7 linked regions of the Homo sapiens genome follow. The protein of the gene in region 5 interacts with the protein of the main gene of each other region in a biochemical or structural test. Each region holds a gene or a part of one and is shown on either strand. Other genes may lie near its edges. The genes, in order: MAGI1, ARHGAP21, PTPN3, PDZRN3, TYRP1, FRMPD3 and PDZRN4.

The links.
Region 1: the proteins of TYRP1 (region 5) and MAGI1 interact in a test that uses a peptide from one of them, tested with the Homo sapiens proteins (one large-scale study listed by IntAct).
Region 2: the proteins of TYRP1 (region 5) and ARHGAP21 interact in a test that uses a peptide from one of them, tested with the Homo sapiens proteins (one large-scale study listed by IntAct).
Region 3: the proteins of TYRP1 (region 5) and PTPN3 interact in a test that uses a peptide from one of them, tested with the Homo sapiens proteins (one large-scale study listed by IntAct).
Region 4: the proteins of TYRP1 (region 5) and PDZRN3 interact in a test that uses a peptide from one of them, tested with the Homo sapiens proteins (one large-scale study listed by IntAct).
Region 6: the proteins of TYRP1 (region 5) and FRMPD3 interact in a test that uses a peptide from one of them, tested with the Homo sapiens proteins (one large-scale study listed by IntAct).
Region 7: the proteins of TYRP1 (region 5) and PDZRN4 interact in a test that uses a peptide from one of them, tested with the Homo sapiens proteins (one large-scale study listed by IntAct).

The regions. Positions count from the first base shown.
Region 1 is NC_000003.12:66,028,919-66,032,418, reverse strand, and holds part of MAGI1 (membrane-associated guanylate kinase, WW and PDZ domain-containing protein 1), read left to right. Parts: intron 1-3,500. UniProt on the Homo sapiens protein: Plays a role in coupling actin fibers to cell junctions in endothelial cells, via its interaction with AMOTL2 and CDH5. May regulate acid-induced ASIC3 currents by modulating its expression at the cell surface.
Region 2 is NC_000010.11:24,717,388-24,720,887, forward strand, and holds part of ARHGAP21 (rho GTPase-activating protein 21), read right to left. Parts: intron 1-3,500. UniProt on the Homo sapiens protein: Functions as a GTPase-activating protein (GAP) for RHOA and CDC42. Downstream partner of ARF1 which may control Golgi apparatus structure and function. Also required for CTNNA1 recruitment to adherens junctions.
Region 3 is NC_000009.12:109,421,808-109,425,307, forward strand, and holds part of PTPN3 (tyrosine-protein phosphatase non-receptor type 3), read right to left. Parts: intron 1,046-3,500; coding exon 911-1,045; intron 1-910.
Region 4 is NC_000003.12:73,401,442-73,404,941, reverse strand, and holds part of PDZRN3 (E3 ubiquitin-protein ligase PDZRN3), read left to right. Parts: intron 1-546; coding exon 547-794; intron 795-3,500. UniProt on the Homo sapiens protein: E3 ubiquitin-protein ligase. Plays an important role in regulating the surface level of MUSK on myotubes. Mediates the ubiquitination of MUSK, promoting its endocytosis and lysosomal degradation. Might contribute to terminal myogenic differentiation.
Region 5 is NC_000009.12:12,696,385-12,699,884, forward strand, and holds part of TYRP1 (5,6-dihydroxyindole-2-carboxylic acid oxidase precursor), read left to right. Parts: intron 1-2,066; coding exon 2,067-2,271; intron 2,272-3,500. UniProt on the Homo sapiens protein: Plays a role in melanin biosynthesis. Catalyzes the oxidation of 5,6-dihydroxyindole-2-carboxylic acid (DHICA) into indole-5,6-quinone-2-carboxylic acid in the presence of bound Cu(2+) ions, but not in the presence of Zn(2+).
Region 6 is NC_000023.11:107,557,652-107,561,151, reverse strand, and holds part of FRMPD3 (FERM and PDZ domain-containing protein 3), read right to left. Parts: intron 896-3,500; coding exon 759-895; intron 426-758; coding exon 299-425; intron 1-298.
Region 7 is NC_000012.12:41,194,820-41,198,319, reverse strand, and holds part of PDZRN4 (PDZ domain-containing RING finger protein 4), read right to left. Parts: intron 1-3,500.

The sequences.
Region 1 (3,500 bases), on a different chromosome or scaffold from region 5:
GAAACCCTGTCTCTACTAAAAAAAAAAAAAAAACAAAAAAATTAGCCGGGCGTGGTGGTGGGCGCCTGTAATCCCAGCCACTAGGGAGGCTGAGGCAGAGAATTGCTTGAACCCGGGAGGCTGAGGTTGCAGTGAGCTGAGATCGCGCCACTGCACTCCAGCCTGGGTGACAGAGTGAGACTCATCTCAAAAAAAAGACCCAGCAAATAATAGGTGCTCACTAAAATTGGTTGGATGCCTGAATGACTATTCCATTGTTTCGGAAGGTAAGTGCAACTAGGCCACTTGCAACATCTTTCCTCCCTTTCTCTCGATTTGTCTTTTACTTCTTGTTTAGGATCCAGAGGTCTTCACTTTCTCGTAATCAGATCTTCCAATTAGCAGGCTTTCTGTGTCTAATAATTTATACTGGGCTATAAATGACTGACAAGGATTAATGAATCCTATTCAAGTATTTCTGCCTGTTGACTCTAACTGAAGTTTAACAAGTGAGCCTCTAAACGTGAAATTTCAGATGTTCAGCAGGCAGGATGATGAGGATTTTTTTTGTTGATGTGGGACCTGTGTCCTCATGCCTAAAAATGATTCTTTCCCTCCGTTTTCTTGCAGCATTGTCCCTGTGTACTTTTTTTTTTGGCTAATAGCAAATCAGATCTTTGCTACAGAACACAATCCAATTTTAGCCCTCTCGCTCTTAAATTGTACTTTGTATTTATGTCTTTTTTTTTTTAACTTAAACTTTCAAAAATCAACCTGTTTTTGTTCTTGGTGCCAAAAGACCACTCTTGGAAGGATATTTTTAGGTTACACTGTGGAACACTGTACAGGTTTTACAAAAAATGAAGCAAGGACGTACAACGCACTTGTCCATCGTTTCCAGTGGCCACCCCTTGTCATTGGCTGTGTTATTTAAAAATAGATTAACTTGACCTTCTGTGGCAATGGCATACAGTTGGCTCACCGTGTTTCTTGGCATTCATTACCCAGCTGGTTTTAGATGGCAGAATTGATGATATCCACCAAGGGGAATTAAGTGGTTTATAAGAGAAAACATTCTGACATCTCCTTACCACAAGGGTTTACATGAAGGATGTTGCTTTGTAAACGAGGGTTATTTAATGCAAAGCACCACTCTCTGGTGTTAGTGGCCCTTTCCTTGAGTTTGTATATACAAGTAACAGGATATACTGATTTTGTATACACTGAGAATAAAGGCTGTCAAATTCGTTAAGGGCTGACATTCACATCCTAAAAAAGTAGGTTACTGCATGCCTGCCTGTCTTTTTGCAGCTCATATGTGAGATCTGTAACCTTGAAAAATCCCTAGTACACACTGGTGCATTGCTAGACTTCTCCCCTATGGAGGTCGGCATCGATGTAGTATTTCTTATGAATTCATTTTGTTGTTTCAACAGATGTCAAGGTTGGTCCTATCATATTGACTCTGCTTTCTAGTTAAGTGTCCTGTGGAGGGTCTAATGTGTTCTGGATGTCAACTTTTCCGAAGGCATGTAGCAAAATTAGAAAATGTAATTTGAGCAGTGTCTTTTATGATTAAATAGAAATCTTCTCTTTTTATGGCTCAGTAATTACATAATGGAATAATCCATTATTAATCATTTCTGTAGTCTCTGTATCTGAGTGAAAGCCGAAGTCCTTATAGTGACTTCCAAGGCTGCCCGTGACCTGTCCTAAGGATATTACTTCTCTTTCTCTGTCCTGCCTGCTAGTGCCCACCTGATCATCTTACAGGCTTGCTATCTCTTGAGCTTCAAGTCTTTCTGAAATGTCACCTGCCCAGTGAGGCCTCTTGTGAGCACATTATTGAAAACCATAACTCCACTGCCACGTGTCATTCCCTGTTCCCCCTCTCAGCTTTATTTTACTCCATAGTATGTAGATCGCTTCACCACAAGTAAATTTCTTATTTTACCTCTTTCTCTAGAATGTAAGCTCTGAGATGGCAGGAATGTTGTCTTGTTCTCCCACAGTATCCCCAGTAGCAAAAACAGTGCATGGTGCCTAGTACTTGCTTGGGTATTTGTTAAATGTTTACAGTCAAGTTTAGAACTAGAATAAATCTCTTCTGAGGTCAGTTACCTCTGAAAATGTAGATATATAGAAGTCCCTGAAAATTTAGGTGACTGATGATGGATCACATTAAAGTTGGTTAGAGTTTAACATTTACAGTCAATGGCTGGGGCTAAAATAGAGCTTAGCCGATTGATCCAGGAATATTCTTAAAGTCAGTGAACATTGCTGGCCTGCTTCAGTTGGTCTTAGTATTATGGGTTTACAAGTAAGAACATGTGGGTCCTTGGTTTCTTGTCAAGAAGGGGAGGGAAGAGTCCACTGGAGTCTCCTTGGAGTCAGAGATAAGGTCACATTTCCAATTTTAGGTTTCCCTGCATGGAAGAGGTCCTTGACTTTAAAATTAATTGAGTGTCCTGATTTTCAGAGGTTACTTTGATTTGGGAAATGACGGTAACAAGGGGTACCAGGTGGCTGATCCAAACAGGAGAGCTGAGGCTACTAGAGTCACCATGAAGATCTTGTCGAGTTAGGGATAGGTCTGTGCACAGCATCCCTTACTTAGCCAAGTCATTGGCCTCAGTCCACTTTCAGTCCTGTGTGCTCCCCACCAACATGAATCCCTAGAAGGCAACTCTAGGTCAGGATTTGAATGCACAGGGCTTATCTGGGAGGTGCTCCCAGGAAGTTCCAGTAGGGCAAGGAAGAGGTGAGACCAGTGAGTCAAGAAGGCCAATGGAGATGCTTTAAAGAGCAAGTCACCACTGTGTGTCTAAGGCAGCCCCATGCTGAGTGTGTCATGGAACTTTGCAGACTCTCTCACCCCTAAACAGACTGAGAGGTTCTTCTGGCTGTGTGTATAGACTTTTTCTGTTACCATCTCCAGTGTCATGAAGATGAGTTCCATAAGATAATTACATTCTCATGGCTAAGGTATCAACCCCACCATTACTGTGGATGGAGGCATTTGTGTGTCTGTTTAATGGGCCACAGTTATGCTTCTTACAATAAGGATAATCTTTACTCCTTTATGAGACAAGACTCGAGGCTCTCTTTATGGACAGGGGCATGATGGTGCAATTAAAAGGCGATCGTGCCCTGATTATAAGCCATGTTTCAAAATTACTGCTATATATAGTGTCATCAGGACCGTAGTACTGCTCATAAAATGATCCACAAATAGCAATTTACTGATGTGTCATAGAGTCAGATTTTGGACCCAAGGTTGGCTTGGGTGAAGAGGCAGGCTTTACACTTTATGAGCTGGGTGTTCTGGGGCAAGATGCTGAACCTCTTTGTGCCAGGTTTCCCCCTCGGAAAATGGGGATAATAATGATACCTACTCTCTAGGGTTGTTGGAAAAGTAGAAAGTAAACCACATGACACAGGGCTTGGCACATAGTGAGTGCTCAATAAATGTTGGCTTCTGTAATTGTTTGAATGCTCCCCATTTGAAAGCCCTTGGGAGA
Region 2 (3,500 bases), on a different chromosome or scaffold from region 5:
ACTGCAATCCAAGGGGGATATAGATAAACTTGTAACTGGTATTCCTGAAAGTGCAGGGTGTTTTGAGAGAATACACTAGGGGCAACTGAAAGAGTCTTGCGGGTCAGGGAAGGCTTTCCTGAGGAAGCAGTATTGAAGAAAAGACCAGTATGATGAGTAAAAATCAGCCATGGAGCAGAGGGAGGAGGAACAGGGGACAGTAGAGGGAAGGGTAGAAGAAAGGACCTGACAGGAGTTCAATCTAGGAAGAACAAAAAGAAGTAACAAGTGAGACAGAAGCGCGGACCAAATTACCAAAGTCCTTTCAGACTTCACAGAGGTCTGAATTTTATTTCAAAGGAAATGGGAAGACAGAAAATTGTCTTATAGGAGGTAATGTAACGATCAGCTGGAGTACAGTGGCGCGATTTTGGCTACCTGCAACCTCTGCCTTCCGGGTTCAAGGATTCTCATACCTCAGCCTCCAAACAGTTGGGACTACAGGTGTGCGCCACCACGCCCAGCTAATTTTTGTATTTTTAGTAGGGACCGGGTTTCACCATGTTGCTCAGGCTGGTGTACAACTCCTGACCTCAGGTCATCTGCCCATCAGGAGGATCATTCTGATTACAGTAGGGACAGAGCTGCGGAAGGGGACAAGGCTAAGTTATTGGGAAACTCCGTAGGGAATCTGTTTCTGTGGTTCATCAGTGAGATGCAGCTGACCTGAACTCAGGTGGGGGTAGTGGGTATTGGGAATGTGGACTCCACAAGACTTTGCATATGAGGAATGACGAGACGGAAGAGTGAGAATGCTGACCTAGTTTTTGACTTGGACCAATAAATAGATGGTAGTGCTACTCAGCGAAAGAAGGTGCACAGGAAGAGGGAGAGTCAGCGGTAGCGGTGAAATCTGATGAGTTTGCAATGCCTGGGGAATATCCCCCAAAAGTGTTCGGTAAATAGGCAACTGGCTGAAAAGGTCTAGAGATCAACCATAAAGCCTGAGATAGAGGGGTAGATACGGAGTCACCAGCACACAGGAGAGTGCAAAATAAAACCCAGGGAGTGAGAAAGAGAATACAGGAATGGAAAGGCCTTGGCTCTGGATAAAACCAACAATGGGGCAAGAAGAGGAAGAAAAACCCTACAAAAGAGGCAGATAGAGAGGGAGATAGAAAGGAGGGGAGGAGAAGAGAGAGCGCCTGAGAAGGAACTAGGGAGTCTGGGATGAAAGCAAAAGCAAACTGTCCAGCATTCCAGAAGGAAGAGTCAACACATGGATTCATACAAACTCGTACCCAGAAAAATGTCTTATTGTATTGTTTACAGTATTTCAAAATCAACCAACAAGTGTATTTCATCAGCCATAATACATTTCAGTCATAGAATAATCTTAGCCTAGGTCAAGAAGCAAAACAAAAATAAGTTCATTTGCATTAGTAAAAAGTTTAATAATAAAGTGACAAAAATTCTATTACTGGACAAGAGTATGGACTACAGATAAAAAATGAAATAAATGTTAGAAATGGAAAAAAAATCATGTGGTTAAGAAAGCTGAGGGAAAGTTTTCTCTTCTTTGGCTTAAAAAAAAAGTTAAACCTTGAAAGATGAAGCTATATGGATATGAAAAGGGGTGATAATATCATAGAGGATTCAACAGAAGAATCTATATAAAGTGATTTTGTGAGCAAAGTTACTCAAGGATTGGTGTCAGAAGACTTCACGGACTACACACACACACACACACACACACACACACACCCCAAAAATCACTTAAGAGGTTCAGAGTGAGTGATTTCAAGTTTTAAAAATACACCTTGAGATGTATAAAAGTATATAAATTCGTGTGAGTACCATCTGGACCATCCTTACTGTATAATGCCAAGACATATTCTACTGAACTGTCCTAATTTCTTATTTGAAGAGGGCTGTTTATTTGTTTTGAGGCTTCCAATATATCCTGGGGGTGGGGAGGCCTAAATGTATATCATATATCAACACAATAAAATTGCAATGCTTAAGATGAACAAGAAATCTCTGATTGTTTTTCAACAAAGCACAAGGCCTTATTCAGAGAAGGTGGAGTTGGCTAATTAGATAAAGCATGAAACAGAGACTCCTGTTAATTCATTACATTGATTTCTTCTGTCCTATAAAGTTAGGTTTTCTTGGCTGATTAACAGCATTACTATTAAGACACACATGCTCATCTCTTTGTTAGTTAAAAACACAATAATAAATGTAGTATCCAAACACATTATTGATTTTTAAAATTTTTTAAAGAGTGATAGTACCACTGTGGAATGTAGTGCTTCTAATAAAATTGACGACAAAAATTAAATGCAATGTTCAAAAACCTAAATATCAGCCCAAAGTATTTCATTAGCAACTAACTCCCTATTACTAAAAAATATTCACAAGATTTAATGTGTATCAGAAGCATCAATCACAGATTAAAACACGTCACAACTAAATACAGGCAATAATTACACAAGTTCTCTTCACTCCCAACCCTGAGGTTTTAAAATGTTTTCTGACAACATATATCCCCTTTATTTCCACTTCCACATAGAATCTAGGCAAAATACCTATTCTTTAGAAAGTCAAATAATATTGTAGTTTAATACCAAACCTAAATACTGTATATATATTTCACATAAGCAAAACACAGGTGATATTGTGTTTTCTTCATTGCTAAACTTAAAAACAAGATAGCCATGCTGCCAGCAGTAAGGTCCAAATGAAAACAAATTTCACAGCCGTTAAAAAATACATAACTGTCATTGTTAATAAAAGCCAAGTGTGCAACAAACTGGAAATACTGCTTGCTAGCCAAGGACAAGATGTGTCTAAATTCTTGGTTTCAGGACATCTCTTAAATGACCAAAAAAAAAAAAAAAAATCAAATAACATTAGTTCTTGCAAACAGAATGCAAATACAATGCTAATTAAAGTATTCACAAGACAATGACAAATAAGGCTTCAGGACCACAATACATATTATTATGTAACTGCAATACACATTAAGCAATCACCAGGTTGCAGGTAGGCCTTCCAAAAGGAGTTATTATGGTTTACCGTGATCAGAGGATTGTGGTGTTCCACTTAATCATGCTTTTGCCTGCAAGCAGGTGTTTACAGATGTCAAAAAGTAAAACACTGATTCTAAATGTAAACCTACAGTTCTGCCTAATAAATTGTACAGTAATAGCACACTGTACCTCACAACGTTTTCTGCATAAACTTTCTAATTCGACATGAAGTAAGCTGCATGAAGCAAGTTTCTCCGCTTGCTTTATGAACCAAAATTTAACTTCTGATTCATTTTTATTAAAATGCCAAAACTCACACACTTAGAGCCAGCCCTTGTTTCAAGGACTATGAAGTTAAAATTTAACATCCGGTGCAAAAGAAAGTGAGACAGTGAATGAGGGTTCATTTGGGTATGTTATTGTCTAAAGTAATCCTCAACCCTTCAATGAAAACATAGGCATCTCAAAAGTAAAATTTAAAGGATA
Region 3 (3,500 bases), about 97 Mb from region 5:
CATCTCCTCTGTCTGCCTGTCTCCCAGTTTCTCTTAGGCTTAGCAGATCCTGGATCAGGTATTTACAGCCACGCACTCTTACTCCAGTGTGGAGCTGGGGGCAATGATTCCCTGCTAGGTTTCCCCTCTGGCCCCTAGCCTTTTTGGAGGTATTCACAAAAATGGTGTGATGTCTTTGAGGACCATTATAATAAGATAATGATAATTCCACCTGACTCTTTTAAAAGCTTACTACGTACTTGTACATTATTATTTCATTTGCGGTAGTTTTTATCATCTTTTTAGATATGGGGAAACTGAGGCTACAGAGGTAAAGAAACTTGTTAATTAACAGAAGGGCCAAAACCTGAGTTTAGGTCTTTCTGCTACAAACCCAGTGCCCTTCTCACTTTACCAAACGACCACCTATTTCTTTTTAAGCTGAGTCCATCCTCTTAAGTTGGCCTGCTACTTACTGATGTGCATTTGCTTCTGCTGCTGAAGGTCATACATCCTTACATCATTTACATCACGTACCTGCGTTAGTTTTCCCTAAAGTTTATTTTGTGGGATATTAATGGAAAACATGAATTAAGTAAAGCTAACCGTACTTTTTTATTATTGGACGTCTCAGAGTGTTTAATATGCTAATGTGTGCTGTGATTCCAAAGGAGGCCTTTCAGCAGGCTCGAGTTTCCCAAACTATTTAGATTGAATAAGTTTTTTTAAAAAGAGCATCTCAGCATTATACACGATGGAAAACATTTAGCTAGACTTGTGTACTTCATGAAAACAGTTACTTCTGCCAAGAGCCTAAAATGCAAATTGTAGGTCATCTATCTTTAGGAGTTTATAAGTTGAGTTTTTATTTTTAAAAGAGATAAAGTGTCTACTGTTGGGTAGTACAAAAAAAAAAAAAAGGAGGACATACCAGTTGGGAGTAATGGGAGGGGAACGAGAAGGCAGACTCTTGGTTTCTAAGTGCTCCACTGATAAGGATCTCCGCATGGCTGGGTTCCACACCATCCCGCCAATCACCTTTTTGCAATATTGGTTATTTACCGACCTGAAAAACCAGATGCAGGTTCACTTTCTACACTGACGTTCAACAGGAAAGAAATTACTGCATGTGTGAAACAGTCTACACATGCTTCTTGTCTGAAGGACGGCAGGTTAATGCCAAGGTTATGGGGAGTAGAGGGAGACAGCTCAAAAGCGATTCCTGTCTGTCCTGGAATTTCCTTATGTGATTTCTTCTCTTCGGGTGAAAATCCTTTCTTGTCCTCACTACTCAAGCAACAAAGCTGTTTCCAGAATATAACCAAACCTAACCAGATTAGAAGGAATTCCAGGATCACACAGAAATACAGCTCCAGTGATTTCAAGGAATTCTTATTTTATTCACACTGGCCTAAGTAAAAATATTAACCATTTTTTCAGGTGCTCTTCATCATCCTAGCTGGCAGGAGCTGTCACTATAAATCACTGGTAAATCTTTGAGAGAGAATCTGAAAATGCGCTTAGAAAGTAGTTTCAAACTGGGCACAGTGGCTCATGCCTGCAATCCCAGCATTTTGGGAGGCTGAGGCGGGTGGATCACTTGAGGTCAGGAGTTCAAGACCAGCCTGGCCAACATGGCAAAACCCTACCTCTACTAAAAATACAAAAAATTAGCCAGGTATAGTGGCGCATGCCTATAATTCCAGCTACTTGGGAGGCTGAGGCATGAGAACCCCCTGAATCCCCGAGACAGAGGTTGCAGCGAGCCAAGATCGCACCACTGCACTCCAGTCTGGGGAACACAGTAAGACTCTGTCTCCAAAAACAAAAAATTATACAGAGTTTCAGGCTACGTTCTTTGAAATGTGCTACCCTGAAGGTTACTTTTGAATTTTATTTATACCTAGAGAATTTAAATCTTAGCTATCTAGACCCCTCAGAGAATGAATTATTTGAGAGAATAGAGCATGAAGCCTGTCACCCTGTTAAAGGGTGACAACTTTGGTTCTGGCATCTCTAAATTTTAAACTAGGATTTAATGTCTTATGAAAACATTCTACACATTTCCTTGTGACATGACATCAACCAACCAACAAAAACAAAACAGAACAAAGAACAAACAAAAGAACATAAACAATATGAATCGCCCTGTAGCACATCATGTACTAATTCACATTAAGAAATGCTGTTGTCACCCTGATCAAAATGCTCACAACAGCATCACTGGGAGACTCTTTCCTCTGAGGCAGGCCTACATCAGAAACCACACTGCCAGTGATGAAGAGCACAGGATCAAAACAAGGGGAGCAAACTGCCCAACTCCAAGGTTTAATGTGTCATGGGTTATTAATAGGGACTCTCTGAAAAAAAAGTGTTCCATTGTCCCATAAGCTTGGAAAATAACCCAACAAATTTCTTTTTATGTGGAACCTTTCAGAAGGCCCAATAAGCAGATGTGTATCTGTATCTCTAGGGGCTGGGCAAGTCATGTGACCCTTCTAAGCCTCAGTGTCCTCATCTGTAAAATGGAGGTAATGAGACTTGAAATTCACCAGTATGCTGAAGCTGGCACAGGTAGTAAAAGAACTGCTGACTTGTCCTCCCAAGCCATCCTCCCAACCCAAATGATCCCCTGTGGCAGATTAAAGATGACTGCAAGTTCTTTGAGTCTTGCATCTGGGTTGGCTTGTGACTGCTTTCAGCAACAGAGTCGCTGTGCCAGTGCCAGGTCTCACCCTTAAGAAGGCTGAACGGTTCTGCCTTTCGCTCCTGGAACCCTGAGTGTCCATGTAAGAAATTCAACCACCCTCCTGGAGTATCCAGATGGGGATGCTAAGGAGTCCAGGTGAGTCCAGCCTTCCAACCATTCCATCAAGACACCAGGTATGCAAGAGAAGTTATCTTGGATCCTCTGGCCACATTCACTGAGAAATCCCTATCTACACCACACAGAGCAGAAGAGGCCTCTGGCCAAGCCCTTCTAGGATTCCTGACTCACAAAGTCATGAGATATAACAGAATGGGTGTTGCTTTCAGTCACCAAAATAGGGGTATTTTCTTGTGCCACAATACAAGACCAGAACCCAGCCCTGCTGGCATTGGATGCATGCAGATGACAAAGCTTTGCAGATGAAGAAATAGAAGCAACAAATTAAAGCTCAAGTGACAGAGGCAGGATTTGAACCCAGGCAGCTCAGCAACAGAGGGCATGGTTTCAGTTGCCTCCCCATTCCTTCTCTCATCTGGCCTGAGGATCAGGCCCAACCTAAGTCAATGATATAATCCAGTAAGTTATTTTCATGGCTTGCTCAACAGTAGATCTACTGAATGTATACAAATACTAAACAGTATTATAAGAGCTAAAAACTTAATATATTCACTCTTGGTTCATCAGAAGCTGAGAGATAGCATTTAGCACCACAAATAGTATCACTGATACTAACAGAAATTAGCTACTTATTCAGTTTACAAGTTCCCTAATGATTATCAATGTATTAGGAAAGTAACTGGAACAGTCTGAT
Region 4 (3,500 bases), on a different chromosome or scaffold from region 5:
GAATTCCTTCTCCATAATAACTTGCCATATGCCGCTATGGCCTGAACTGTCATTTACTTAATATTTTCAATGGACTTTTTAAAGAGCGAAAGGATTATTAAGAGGAAACTTCATATTACTTCCATGAAGGGAAGACTGGTATCATCTGACACAAACTGGAAAAATACACACTATTAAAACATAACAATGTAATGAATTTCTAGTTAGCTATTATTGCCTGATAAAGGCTCGGAGCCTGAGGCTGGCCTTTTCTTTCACAGGCAAGATTAGCAAGTGATGAAATTGTGTTAAAGACATTCCACGGGGAAGCTAAGCCTTCCCGCTGTGAGATTTATTATTGCATGCCAGATCTGAATACCTCCAAACTCACTCTCTTTCCACCAGGCATTCTTCGGGAAACCTAAACACAGAGAACTGAAGTTCTCTGACACCACCACCTGCTTCTTTCTTTTAGCTGCTTACACATGAAAGCAGGCAATTCATGTATTTGTCCTTCCGTTTTCTGCTTTATTCTAACCTTGTCCCACCCTAAATATTTTTCCACAGGTCAACGGCAGAGACTTATCCAGAGCAACTCATGACCAGGCTGTGGAAGCTTTCAAGACAGCCAAGGAGCCCATAGTGGTGCAGGTGTTGAGAAGAACACCAAGGACCAAAATGTTCACGCCTCCATCAGAGTCTCAGCTGGTGGACACGGGAACCCAAACCGACATCACCTTTGAACATATCATGGCCCTCACTAAGATGTCCTCTCCCAGCCCACCCGTGCTGGATCCCTATCTCTTGCCAGAGGAGTAAGTAACCTAATCTTGAACCCCTAATGCATTAAGAAGTATTTCCAAGTTGGTTTCTTTCTCTTCTATGTGGTGAAAAAAATTAATGCACCCTATAGTTTTCCTCCAAGTTGCCCATGTTTAACTTTATTGTTTATAGAGGCAATAAATCGAATCCTGCTCAAAACCGCTCCGACATATTAATTACTTTATTATAACCCTGGAGCGGACTTATTCAAATTATATCCTAAGAACAGAATTACTTACAAATGTTGTAAAAGTTGTTTCAGAATAAAATGTAATCACCCCAAATGGTAATTTGAAGATCCTGCAGTTATTACTAGGGAATGTTGATCATTCTTTTAAATAGACAAAAAAGTAAGTTGTGTGTGTCAAGAGAGCCCTGGAGGTTGTGCCTTCTGCTTTCTTGGGTCTCATTTCAAGCCTGGATCCATGTAATAAGCCCGCACATGCCTCATCTAAGTACTGCATCAACCAATTAAATAACAGCTGCAACTCAGCACGCCACATGGATTTCTTTACACACACCTCTTCTCTCAACTTATTTCTGCCAGCGATAAAGAGTCCTTCAGAGGCTTCAAGTCAGACAAACCTGATGCTCAAAGTGATTTCTAGTTGTGGAACTTGGGTAACTTACTTTGTTTTGTGGGGCTGTATTTTTCCTATATTAAAATGGAGATAACAGTATCAATCTCTTATCATTGAAGGATTAAATGAAACAATATGTGGGAAGTGCTCATGGGGCATATGGTAAGCACTCAGTAAATGGTACCAGCGATCACCGTTAATTTAGTGGGTGATGTAAAATATTCAGGAAAAAATGAAGAGCAAGACACTTTCTGTGATAGACTGCTGGCCCCCAAGGTGTCCAGTTCGACATAGCTTTTAACATAGCTTTTCAAGGCCAGGCGTGGTGGCTCACACCTGTAATCCCAGCACTTCGGGAGGCCGAGGCAGGTGGATCACAAGTTCAGGAGATTGAGACCATCCTGGTTAACACGGTGAAACCCCGTCTCTACTAAAAATACAAAAAACAATTAGCCAGGTGTGGTGGCGGTCACCTGTAGTCCCAGCTACTCGGGAGGCTGAGGCAGGAGAATGGCGTGAACCCGGGAGGCGGAGCTTGCAGTGAGCCGAGATCATGCCACTGCACTCCAGCCTGGGCAACAGAGCGAGACTCCGTCTCAAAAAAAAAAAAAAAAAAAAGCTTTTCATGTGTGACTTTGCACATCTGAGGACACAGCCTCTCCAGCTGATGTTAGGGTCGCCCCTGTGTTTTCTCATCTCAGCTCCATCTCGGATCAGATCATTGACTTGATACATTATTTCAAAGGGCATTTTCACCTCTTACAGGAGAATCCACTGGGTAATACCTGTTGGATTCCTACTAGTAACTCAGTAGCTGGAGTGAGCACATGTTTCCTATGGTTCAGTCAAGTTCTGGATAAAGGCTTGCCCTTCATCCCTTGGTCTTAGTGGCTAGCTGTCATTGGAACCCAGGACTAATTCCCCAGGCTTGACAGAGTAGGTTTGGCAGCAGCTGGTAGCATAAAGACAGAGGACAGGGCATCCGTCTCACATTCACTCACAGTGTGCACATGTGCAAAGAACTATTATCTATCTCCTTCATTTCTCATGACTGTCCCTTTATACAGATGAGGAACTGCAGACTCACCAGGTTCCACTGAGCTGATGGAAAGGCAGGTCAGTCAGACCCCGACTCCCAGCTCTGAACCACAGTACCCTGTAGTGACCCATTCCATCCTCTGGAACAACTGGCTGATTCACTGAGTATGATGATCCAGACCATTTATCTGACGTTACAGACCAAACTGCCTCACATTATTGATGAAGCCTTTAAGGCTACTTCTGACTCTTAAATGTTGACCTGTCACAGTGATGGGCCTTTTAGAAGCTAAACCTGTAATTTCCTCTTAGGTCTAGTTAACATGACATGACTTATCCCCTGGGGGCGACTTGAGAAATGTCAGAAGAGTCCAGAGGTCAGGCCTCTTCAGGTTCTGGCTGCAAGGTCAGACAACAGCAAGAGCGTGTGTCGGGACTGAATGGGGAATGTTAAGTTGATGCTTGAAAGCCCAGACCTTCCAACAGTATCCTCAGTACTAAAAGCCCTTTAAGTGCAGGCAGTATATTTGCCTGATGGGTCCAGAAAATTGAAAGCCAGCCCTTGTTTGAATGGCCACTCATGTCTGATCTGTTGTTTCAAAACTAAGTGCCTGGGAGGGAAGACTAGAGCCCATTGATTGCTGTGCTGACCTTTGAGGACGTGAAGGTTTGGGTCCCCAGCCAACAATCAGAGGCTGAAGCTTTGCATCTGGCACCGTGGACTGTTAAGCTCCTTTCAAAGCTGCTGATGGAGTATGTTATGATTCCCACTGCCTTGGCTCCTTGAGGTTGCATTAATGACGTTTCCAAAGATGTCGTGAGTTCTGTGGACTGTGTTTTGCATATGTTGTCCTAGGGAAACATAAGCTTCCAGTCTCCTAGCAGAGTGAATGTGTGTGTACTCATTATATGTAAACATATACACACAGATGCACTTATGCCTACATGTTTGTATGTGCATTTCAACCATGTAAGTGCATACTGTACGTTTGTGATATCAAACATATTATTGTGGGTAACATTCAAAAAGACACGGTCCTAGGTAACAGCAGAACAGTTTCATTCTCAGCCTTTTGAACT
Region 5 (3,500 bases):
CTTACAGAAGAAACCTATTAAAATATCACATCACTATATAAGAGGACAGATATTTTAATTTGCTTGGCTATAGTAATCACTTTACTATGTATATTTATATCAAAGCACCATGTTGTACACCTAAAATATGTAAAATTTGAAAAAAAGTTGAAAAATATCAAAATAATTATATCAGTCAGGCAATATTTTTAGTGAAAAGACATTGGCTTTTTATTTGGCACAAAGTGAACCTCAACTCAAGCAGTTATTTCATGCTTATTTTCTAAGCAGATAAGCTTCAAACATATTAAAGTATCTAGTTACGTAGATTCTTTACTCTTATTTCTTTTACCAACTGCTCTGTTCCTTGAGAAAAATATGGAAATTTTAAAATAAAAGTTTAAGTTGTTAGATCTCAACTAGGAAATCCACAAAGTAAACCTGTTTTCTATGTGAAATAACAGCAATGAATCTCCCCCTTCAAGTTAAGATATAAAAATTAAGCTAAAAATATCTGAAGAAGGGAAAGGCGTTTAGATTCATTTATTAATTTGCAGAATGCTGTGCCAGCATTATTCCGAGAAAAAATAAATGGTTAGAAGAGAGAGAATTAATGCACTAACATACAGGATAAAATATTCTTTTGAAAGTACACTATCCATTTGCAGTTTGAGAGTGATTAAATGAATTCATCTGATACTCTGAACGTCATATTTTATAGCTCTGATTGCAAGTAAGACATTTAGTAGATTATAGATAAATCTGTCATTTGTAATTGACTGCAGATCTTCATGCCTTCAAGTCATTTTCTCATGGGCACACCAAAATGAAAGGGCAGGTGGAAAGTATCTAAAAGCTTCAATTTTGCCTGTGTAAACTTCAACCTCTATGACTTACATTTTAAAGACCCAACAGCACAAGGGATGCAACAAATTAGAATTTAAATGTAATTCGTGGTTGAAATGCCACATGAATATGCTCTGGCTCCCAAATGTCAGTTGCTGAACCACAAACCGATTCTTAATGATCCCTTGGAAGCTGTCACTAATTTTTGTGAACCACAATGATGGCTTCTAAAGGAGGACTACAAACCCCTGGAGACCAATAACTGGGGATAACTTGGAAAGCTTTTGGCTCTCTAAAACACCCAAGGATAAGAAAATGCTTCCTAGGAAGGGATTTAAAGTGAAAAAGTAGAAATATACTGAGTGCTTGAGAGATAAGATAAAACAATTGCAATCCCTACATTTAAATCCCATACCATAAATAGAACTTCTCAAGGCACCAAAGAAATGAGAAATAACAAGGAAATGTATGTTTTAAAGAACCGAATGAAATAAGCATGTGATCTTGAGGCCAGCATTTTTAAAAATGTGAGATCAGCTTTGAATGGAAACTAGGTCTCTGATCTAAAAAACAATGGGCAGAAAGATTTACTCTGCTTCTGTTTAGCATTTTTATCAGTATAAATTTAGGCAGAAGCCTGAGTCTTAAAAGTTTAGATTCTAAGGCAGGGTTCCCTAAATAAAACACCTTCCGTGCTCAGTGTGAAAGAGTCCATTGGCCTGTTGCCAAACCAGAATCTAAATGCCTAGTCATTCAAATTAAATTTAAAAACAGAAGCAAAACAAAAATTAGCACTCCACAAAACATATTTTAAGGCTGGATCTGGCTCCAGACTAAGAGTTAATGATGCTTGAATTAAAGATAGGAAAATGGAAGAAGGTGGAAATGCCAAGAAGTGGATGTTGTTATTGATAACTTTTTTGTATAACCAATATAAATGTAATTATCTGCCTAAAAAAGAAAAAGAAGACCCTTTATCCCTTTAAATCATTTTCAGAAATGTCTGCATAATGAGTTGAGTTTCATTCCCTCTAATGCCTAAATGACACCTTGTAATAAATTACCAGCTTTGTTAAATAAGGTTTTAACTCCTCTGGGCCCCTCAGACACCGTTGATATACTAACCAGTACCTTATTGTCTGAAGAGAGCTAATAGAAATAGACTGTCAGAGAGTAGACCAAACAGAAATGAATAATTGTAAACAGAAGCAGAGAGTATTAATGTGGTTTCTGTGATCTAGGAAATGTTGCAAGAGCCTTCTTTCTCCCTTCCTTACTGGAATTTTGCAACGGGGAAAAATGTCTGTGATATCTGCACGGATGACTTGATGGGATCCAGAAGCAACTTTGATTCCACTCTAATAAGCCCAAACTCTGTCTTTTCTCAATGGCGAGTGGTCTGTGACTCCTTGGAAGATTATGATACCCTGGGAACACTTTGTAACAGTAAGTTCCAAATGATAGCTTGGAGTCAGAATTTCTTTTTAGATAAAGAGATTAAATATGTTGCCTGAAAGGCCCTTCATTCTACTAGAGAATTCAGACTAAAATCTACTTTTATTATAGAGTAACAGTGTACCAGGCATTCATTAAACACCTAGAATGTTCAAGGTACTCTAGAAGTTGCTCCAGGGGAAACAGAAAGTGCCTACACATTTTTACACTGCCTTTCTTGAGTAGTTTGGTCAATATCTTGCTAACTTTCTTATTTTGGAAATGTCTAGTTGTATAAACTAATCCTCTTAGTTTTCTTAGCACTACTTAGAAGTCATGTGTCTTGTGTTGGAATTTCACAGAAAATGTTTCCTAAGAAAATGTGAAAAATAGGCAAAAAGTTGGAAATGCCCTGGGAAGAAAAAAAAGAAAAGAAGCAAACCAAATGTATGCTTGCAGTTATAAAGTTAGAAAACAAAAGCTGATATGGGGGATAGTTTTCAGAAAAGGAGTATATTGTACTGATGTCTGCCCCCTAGCTGCTTTCCAGCTCTTCCAAAGTGAACACAGTAAGAGTACGCCTAATCAGTTGTCCCAGCATCCTTTCTCCAGTGATCTGAATGCCACCACTGTCACAGGTCAAGTTTCTGCCACATGTAGATCTCTTCCTGAGCTTTCTGTTCTCCTCCTTGGATCATATTATTATTTGTGCCTGTGGTAGTAACACAAGGTTTAATTATTAGACACCCCCTACCTCATCTTATTTTTCTTCTTCAGGCATGTATGGCTCTTTTGATTGTTCTTCCATATAAAAATAAGAGTTATGTGAATTTGTTTTCTTATTATAATCACCACATACTTATTCTACATGTATTATTTTATGCATCAAGTATTATTTTATGAACTTAAATAAGAAATACTCTAAATAAATCAGCAGGAATTAGATACATATTTTCACCATTAGATTATTTAGCAATGTATAGGAATAAGAGAAGTGATAATATATGAAAATTTCCTCTGTAGAAGTTTAAAACTTAGAATAAATTTGTATTTGTTTGGTATGCTGAATGCATGATCCCACCTTGTGGCAGAGAACTGAAATTGAGGATCAGGATGTCTGCAGATGCCAAAATGTTTATACTCTTTGTGACCAGGCCATTGTATTTTGGCCTGAGAGTTTTCTAGACATTTCCCAATCACCCTGATGATTGGATACCAAAATAAAACACAGTTTAAATGAG
Region 6 (3,500 bases), on a different chromosome or scaffold from region 5:
TCGGCACTGACTAATTGGTGAAAAGGACCTGAGAATTATCTCCTGCATCTTGGCCCCTTTGCTTTGAGGACCCTGAGCTCTCTCAGTGATGTGTCACTCAGCTGTCTCTTTGGGATGCTCAGGCTTGGGGAAGACTCCTCTCCACAACTGCCCCACACCTGGCCAAGCCGTATGTGCACCTGAGTCAAAAGCAGTGGTGAGGATCCCTAGAGGACCAGACTCTGCTGGGAAACCACCCAGGATCTCCCTGTGGCCAGTAGTGCCTGGAGCACCATGCCCAGTGGTCTACTCTGGATACCTTGGTGCCGCAGGAAGGATGTGTTTGGTGAGCCTTCAGTTGCTGAGAGAGAGATTTCCGGAGGTTCTTCTCTTTGATGACCTGCAGGAGGGAGGGGGGAAGAAAGGGTTCCAGGCCCCACTCCTTCCTAAAAGCAGAAGAAAAGTAAGAGATTAGTGAGAGAGGCAAAGTGGGACAGAGAGAAGATGGTAAGACAGAAATTGACTGAATCTGAGAGGTAGAGATGGAGGAATAGAGACTGGGAGAAAGAAAAAGGGACAGGGATAGGAAAATAACATTAGCCACAGCTCCCTAGTAGAAGCTGTAGCTCTAGGGCTTCATAGTCTAGATATGAGGGACTCCAATTCTCACTCCCATCCCATGTCCTACATTTCTGAAAAGCATAGCATAGCTCAACCAGTGTACCTTTTCCCTACGCAACTATTCGCCCCCCATCCCAACGGGCCGCAGCACAACTCACTCCACATTCTTGAGCGAGATCTTCTGACTAGGTCGAGTGGCTGAGACAGTGATATAGATGTGGAGCGCAGCAAGGCCCAAAAGCATCTCTGGCTTGGGATCCATTCCAAAGCGTTCTCGAATAACATCATTCCGACTCTGTGAGAGAGGGCAGTCCAAACCTATCAGCTGAAGGAGACATTCCTTCCCCACCCCCTGATCTACTCCCTTACATCCCAGACAATACTCATAGTATCAGTAAGGCATGCTAGATCAAGGGACAGAGGAAGGAGCTCCCCTTGGAGAAGAGACAACAGAGGAGGCTCAGGTCTCATAGACACTGTTCACTTTATTCAGCAGATACTAGATAGCCTTCTCAGTGACAGGGGCACACAATGGCAAGGTACAAGCAGACAGTCCAGTTCACTGCAAAAGTGAGACATGGCACCACTCCCTTTCTTTCCTCCTTTTATAAGAGACTTTCCTACTTTTTTTCATGGGGGTTATACTCACCCCCAAGCCATACAAGGCTCCTTTACTAGCTCAGATGGAAACAAGGGGAGAAAGATACTGGGAGGGACTCTCCACAGGGCCCTGGCCCAGAAGCCCAGGGTGAGAGCTGAATTGCAGGGATGGGGGAGGCATTCTTCTTCTTGGTGTCTGAAGGACAAAAATGTTGATGAGTCAATCTTCCCTATGCTATCCTAGAGGAGGTCTCCAGGAACTACTGGCCAAGGGTATGACAACCCCCAAACCCTGAGGGTCACAGCCCCAGCTATCAATGAGTCAGCCTTGGTTAGACCAGTTTCCCATTTTGTTAAAGTGGAACCAGTATGGACTAAGGGACTAGGAAGCCACAGTGATATCACTATAATATAGGAGAGAGTGGAAAAGGAATACATCATCAATGATCATCTATGTAGAAAATTCAGTGGATTCTATTACAAAAAACTACTACAACTACAGTTTTCCCTTGGTATCCATGGAGGATTTCTTCCAGGACCCCCATGGATACTGAAATTTGTGGATGCTTAAGTCCTTTATATAAAATGCTGTGGTATTTGCATGTAACCTATGCAAATCCTCCTGTATACCTCTATCACCTCTAGATTACTTATAATGCCTAATACAATTAAAATGCTATATAAGGCCAGGTGCAATGGCTCATGCCTGTAATCACAGCACTTTGGGAGGCGGAGACTGGTGGATTACCTGAGATCAGGAGTTCAAGACCAGCCTGGACAACATGGTGAAACCCCGTCTCTACTAAAAATACAAAAATTAGCTGGGCATGGTGGCGGGCGCCTGTAATCCCAGCTACTTGAGAGGCTGAGGCAGGAGAATCACTTGAACTCAGGAGGTGGAGGTTCCAATGAGCCGAGAGCGAAACTCCATCTCAAAAAAAAAAAAAAATTGCTATAGTGCTATGTAGGCCAGATGCTGTGGCTCATGCCTAAAGTCACAGCACTTTGGGAGGTTGAGGCAGGTGAATCACTTGAGGTCAGGAGTTTGAGACCAGCCTGGCCAACATGGTGAAACCCTGTCTCTATTAAGAAATACAAAAATTAGCTGGGCGTGGTGGTGCATGTCTATAGTCCCAGCTACTTGGGAAGCTGAGGCAGGAGAATTGTTTGAACCTGGGAGGTGGAGGTTGCAGTGAGCCGAGATCATGGCACTGCACTCTAGCCTGGGTGACAGAGCGAGACTCTGTCTCAAACTAAACTAAAATAAAAATGCTATGCAAATAGTTATTATATTATATTTTTAAATTTTGTATTTTTTATTATTGCACTGTTATTTTTTATTGTTTTTGAATATTTTCAAAATCCACAAATATGGAACCTGTAGATATGAAGGGCCAAATGTAGTGAGTTTACCAAGGTTTCAGGATATAAGATCAATACACAAAAATCAATTGTATTTCTATTCTTTTAAAAATAAATCTTTTTGTATAGAGATGGGGGTCTCACTATGTTGCCCAGGCTGGTCTTGAACTCCTGAGCTCAAGTGATCTTCCTGCTTCAGTCTCCCAAAGTGCTGCAATTACAGACGTGAGCCAACATGCCCAACCCCAACTCTATTTGTATATGCTAGCAAGAAATAATTGAAAATTGGAATTAAAATCAAAATCATTTACAATAGCATCAAAAAATATGAAATAATTAGGGACAAATCTGACAAAACATATGAAAGACCTATATACTGAAAACTACAAAATACTGCTGAGGAAAATTATAGAAGGTATAATTAAATGTAGAAATACTGTGTTCAGGGATTGGAAGGCTCAATATTGTTAGGATGTCAATTGTCCCCAAATTGATCTATAGTTTCAACACAATCCTAATCCAAATCACAGCAGGTTTTGGTAGAAATTATCATGGTGATTCTAAAATTCACATGAAAATGCAAAGGACCTATAATAGCCAAACCAACTTTGAAAAAGAACAAAGTTGGAGAACAAATACTTCCTGATTTCAAGAATTATTATAAAGCTCCAGTAATCAAGAGTGTGATGTTGACATAACGACAGACAAGTAGACCAACAGATCAGAATAGAGAGTACAGGAATAGATCTATATATATATATATATATATATATATATATATATATATATATAGACAACAGATTTTTAACAAAAGTACAAAGGCAATTCAGTGGAGGAAGGATACTCTTCTCAACAAAAGGTGCTATAACAATTGGATATCCATATGCAAAAAAAAACACACACACACACACACACACACACACACGAAACTTTGATGG
Region 7 (3,500 bases), on a different chromosome or scaffold from region 5:
GAAGAAAGTGTAAACAAAGAGCCATGAATGATTATCCACCCTTTCCCACTCTGGAGTTATGGTTGCATTGCCTGCTATCAGTATCATAGAAATAAGAGAGGAGACTGGGCACTATGGCTCACGCCTGTAATCCCAGCATTTCAGGAGGTCAAGGTGGACAGGTCGCTTGAGCCCAGGAGTTCAAGACCAGCCTGGGCAGCATGGTGAAACCCCATCTCTACAGAAAATTTTTAAAAAATTAGCCAGGTGAGGTGGGGTGCACCTGTAGTCCCAGCTACTTGGGAGGCTTAGGCTGGAGGATACCTTGAGTCCCAGAGGTAGAGGCTGCAGTGAGCTGTGATCATGCCACTGCATTCCAGCCTAGGTGACAGAGCAAGATCCTGTCTCCAAAAAAAAAAACCCAGAAAAAACAAGGAAAAGAAGAAGAAGAAGAAAGAAAGAAAGAATAGAGGAATCGATGCTAAAAGCAACAGTGAACTTTGTTTCTCAACTCCCTCCCACATACCACTTAGGCATCCTAACATGATGATAACTACAGCAATGGTCATGCCTTCTTCCAGAATTGTGCCCAACCTTCGATAGGATCAGGGATTTTCTGTGATTCCTTTGATTCTTGAAAGAATGAAAAACAGCATGCTTTTATTCAGCTGTATACTGTGGTGAATTCTTGGTGTATGTGAATTTCTGTGATGTTTCAAAATGCCTTCAACAATATCTTCTGCCTTTTCAGTCTCCAGTGATATTTTGACACCTAGTGTAACTCAACTATCACAACTGATTTTTTAAAATTTACAAGCATAAATAGTTTAACAAATATGGATGTGGAAATAGCTAGAAACTGGTTAACATAGTTGCTTGTGGAGACTGACTCCAAAAATTAACTTGCCTTATATTATGTGAAAAATATGACATAGGTTTACCTAATGACAGTAATTTTTTATTCTTTTATTATTCTTGAATTTTATCAATAGAATGCAAATATTAAAAAATAATACGTGTTACTAGCCTTTGTTGAACTGTGGCAAAACTATTATAACTAATATATTATTTATTAGAGTTTATAAAATCTTTTTAACCACCAACAGAACAAAACCTTTAACATGTCTACTTCCTCTTCAAGTGAATAACTTTGGAAAATTTTATTATTTTTTAAAAACAATTCATAAACTTGTATGTGTGCATCAAGCAATTAGCTACAGAAAATATTTTTGAGCATATCTTGACTATATATAAACCATAGAATCTCTTATTGTTTTTATTTTTTATTTCAGTTATATATCAGTAAATTCAAAGCATTTAGTAATGTGTCAGATTGTGCATAAGTCATACGGATAATTTTATAATATATGAACTAGTTTGTACCCTTTACACTGTTAACAAACTTACTTGTTGCACCAGGTTTAAATCAGCATGACCATTTGAAATTCAAAAATTGAGCCATTAAATTTGTTCAATGAACAAATCTTTGATCACAAAACAGAAAATAAATTATTATCTTTACTTTAAAAATCTGTTTTAAAATATGCATCTGCACATTTTAAATTGATAGATTTCTTCTCAATTTCCAATTAGCTAAAAACTGCTTAAAGTTGATTGATATCATAATGACAGAGAAACTAAAATAATGATAAGCATCAAATATTTCTAACTTTAATGATTACATAGGGATCTTTTACAACACACACCATATGCACAAGAAAAAACACACTTCTTGTTTAACTAGATATTAAAGTCACACAAATATCTATTCACTCAAAAAGCCGATAGCATCACTGAACAACTAAGCAAGAGCAATTTATTTCTAATAATCTTCTTTCTAAAATATTTCATGCTATTTAACACACAACATTCTAGAAATATGCACCTCATCTAACCCATTTCTTAACTGCAAATGTGGTCACATTGATCCATTCTACAACTATAGCATATATACATAAAATCAATGTACCCTGGTATAAAAGACACATTGAAAAATCTATATCATTGAGACAAATTTCAAGCTCTAGTCATTAACTGCTAATATATGCAAATGAAAGTGAATAATAATACCGCAGCTAGTTAAATTTCATTTGAATTTCTGTGGTTGACCTCCTTACTTTTTATCTTACAGGGTTTAAATAAGGTTAATCTGACATATATTAGTAACAGTACTATGTAGGTGTCTAGATGCACTTGATTTTCAACCATAGTTTTATAAAATTACCTCTTTAAAAAAAACAGTAGGTTTGTAACCAAATTGTTGTATGACAATATAAAAAATTCTTTTTCTTTTCTAATGTAACATTAATGAAGCATACATAATATTGTCATCTAGCTAGAATAAGTTATTTTTTAAATTGCCAATACGTATTTCTGTTGTGTCTATGTGTTTGTGTGGGTGTAACAATATATGTATTCAGTTCCATCAGTTCTTCTAATAATATCAAATGTAGGAATTTATTTTCCATTGGTAACTGGACAACTTAATATGTTTTTGAGATAATGCAGAAAGTAATAGGGACAATCTTCTGTTTAAAGTATGTTGCCCTTTAGATCATACTGTGCACATTCTAACTTTAGAAGCTACAGCATGTGAATGTTTCCACTAGACAAATTGTCAAGATGAACTGGATAGCAACAGCAAAAGTAGGTCTGCACTTTCTCGGCAACAAAACTGGAAGAATAAAAATCTTGATACAAGAGACCTCTTTAGATATAAATCAAAGTTTTTTTTTTGGCAAAAGATAACTCTTCTTTTTTTTCTAAATTTTGTAGTCGGCTAATTTATAAATGTTGTGTTCTTTTTTCCCAAAACAGCAAACTATTGGGTCTTCTATATTCTTCACTCTTACTCTATGTCGATTCATTAAAAATTCAACTTTGTTTAGTGCACAGAGGATGAATGAAAAGCTAAAACTTTATTTAAAATTTAATATAGAAAATCTGCCTCCATTCTGATAGTTTATATAAGTATTCAGAGAGATAGCACTAGTGATTATATAGCCTAGAGTGAACAGAATTTTTAAAAACAATAGTGGAGTCAAGTAAACCTTCCAAATTCCTATTTATAGCTTCACTAATCCATTGGAAATAAACTCACTGATAAAAGTAACTTAACCATTTTTGGCAACAAAAAGTAATATTATCTTAACCAGTTAATAAAATGTCAAAAGGACAGAGATGGCAGATGGCAGGGACATAAAATTTCATTAACATAACCCAATTTTACTAGCATATAGGTGCTCACTTTATCACCCCCGAATACAACAATACAGTTAAAACATACAAAGAGTTCTCACCAGGTTTTCACAACAAAGAGAAAAAAAGGTATTTCTCTTTTTCTTTCATATAAAAGATAATGACAGGAACAAGGTAGCCATATTACACCAAGAAATATTAAAAGTATTGTATAATTTATTCCAAACTCTACATATAAAATATTAATTACAAATTTAAAATATAATCATAGTTCCTCATCAGAAATGTTCCTCAACAGAGATTTATCATCCTTTTTTGAAATG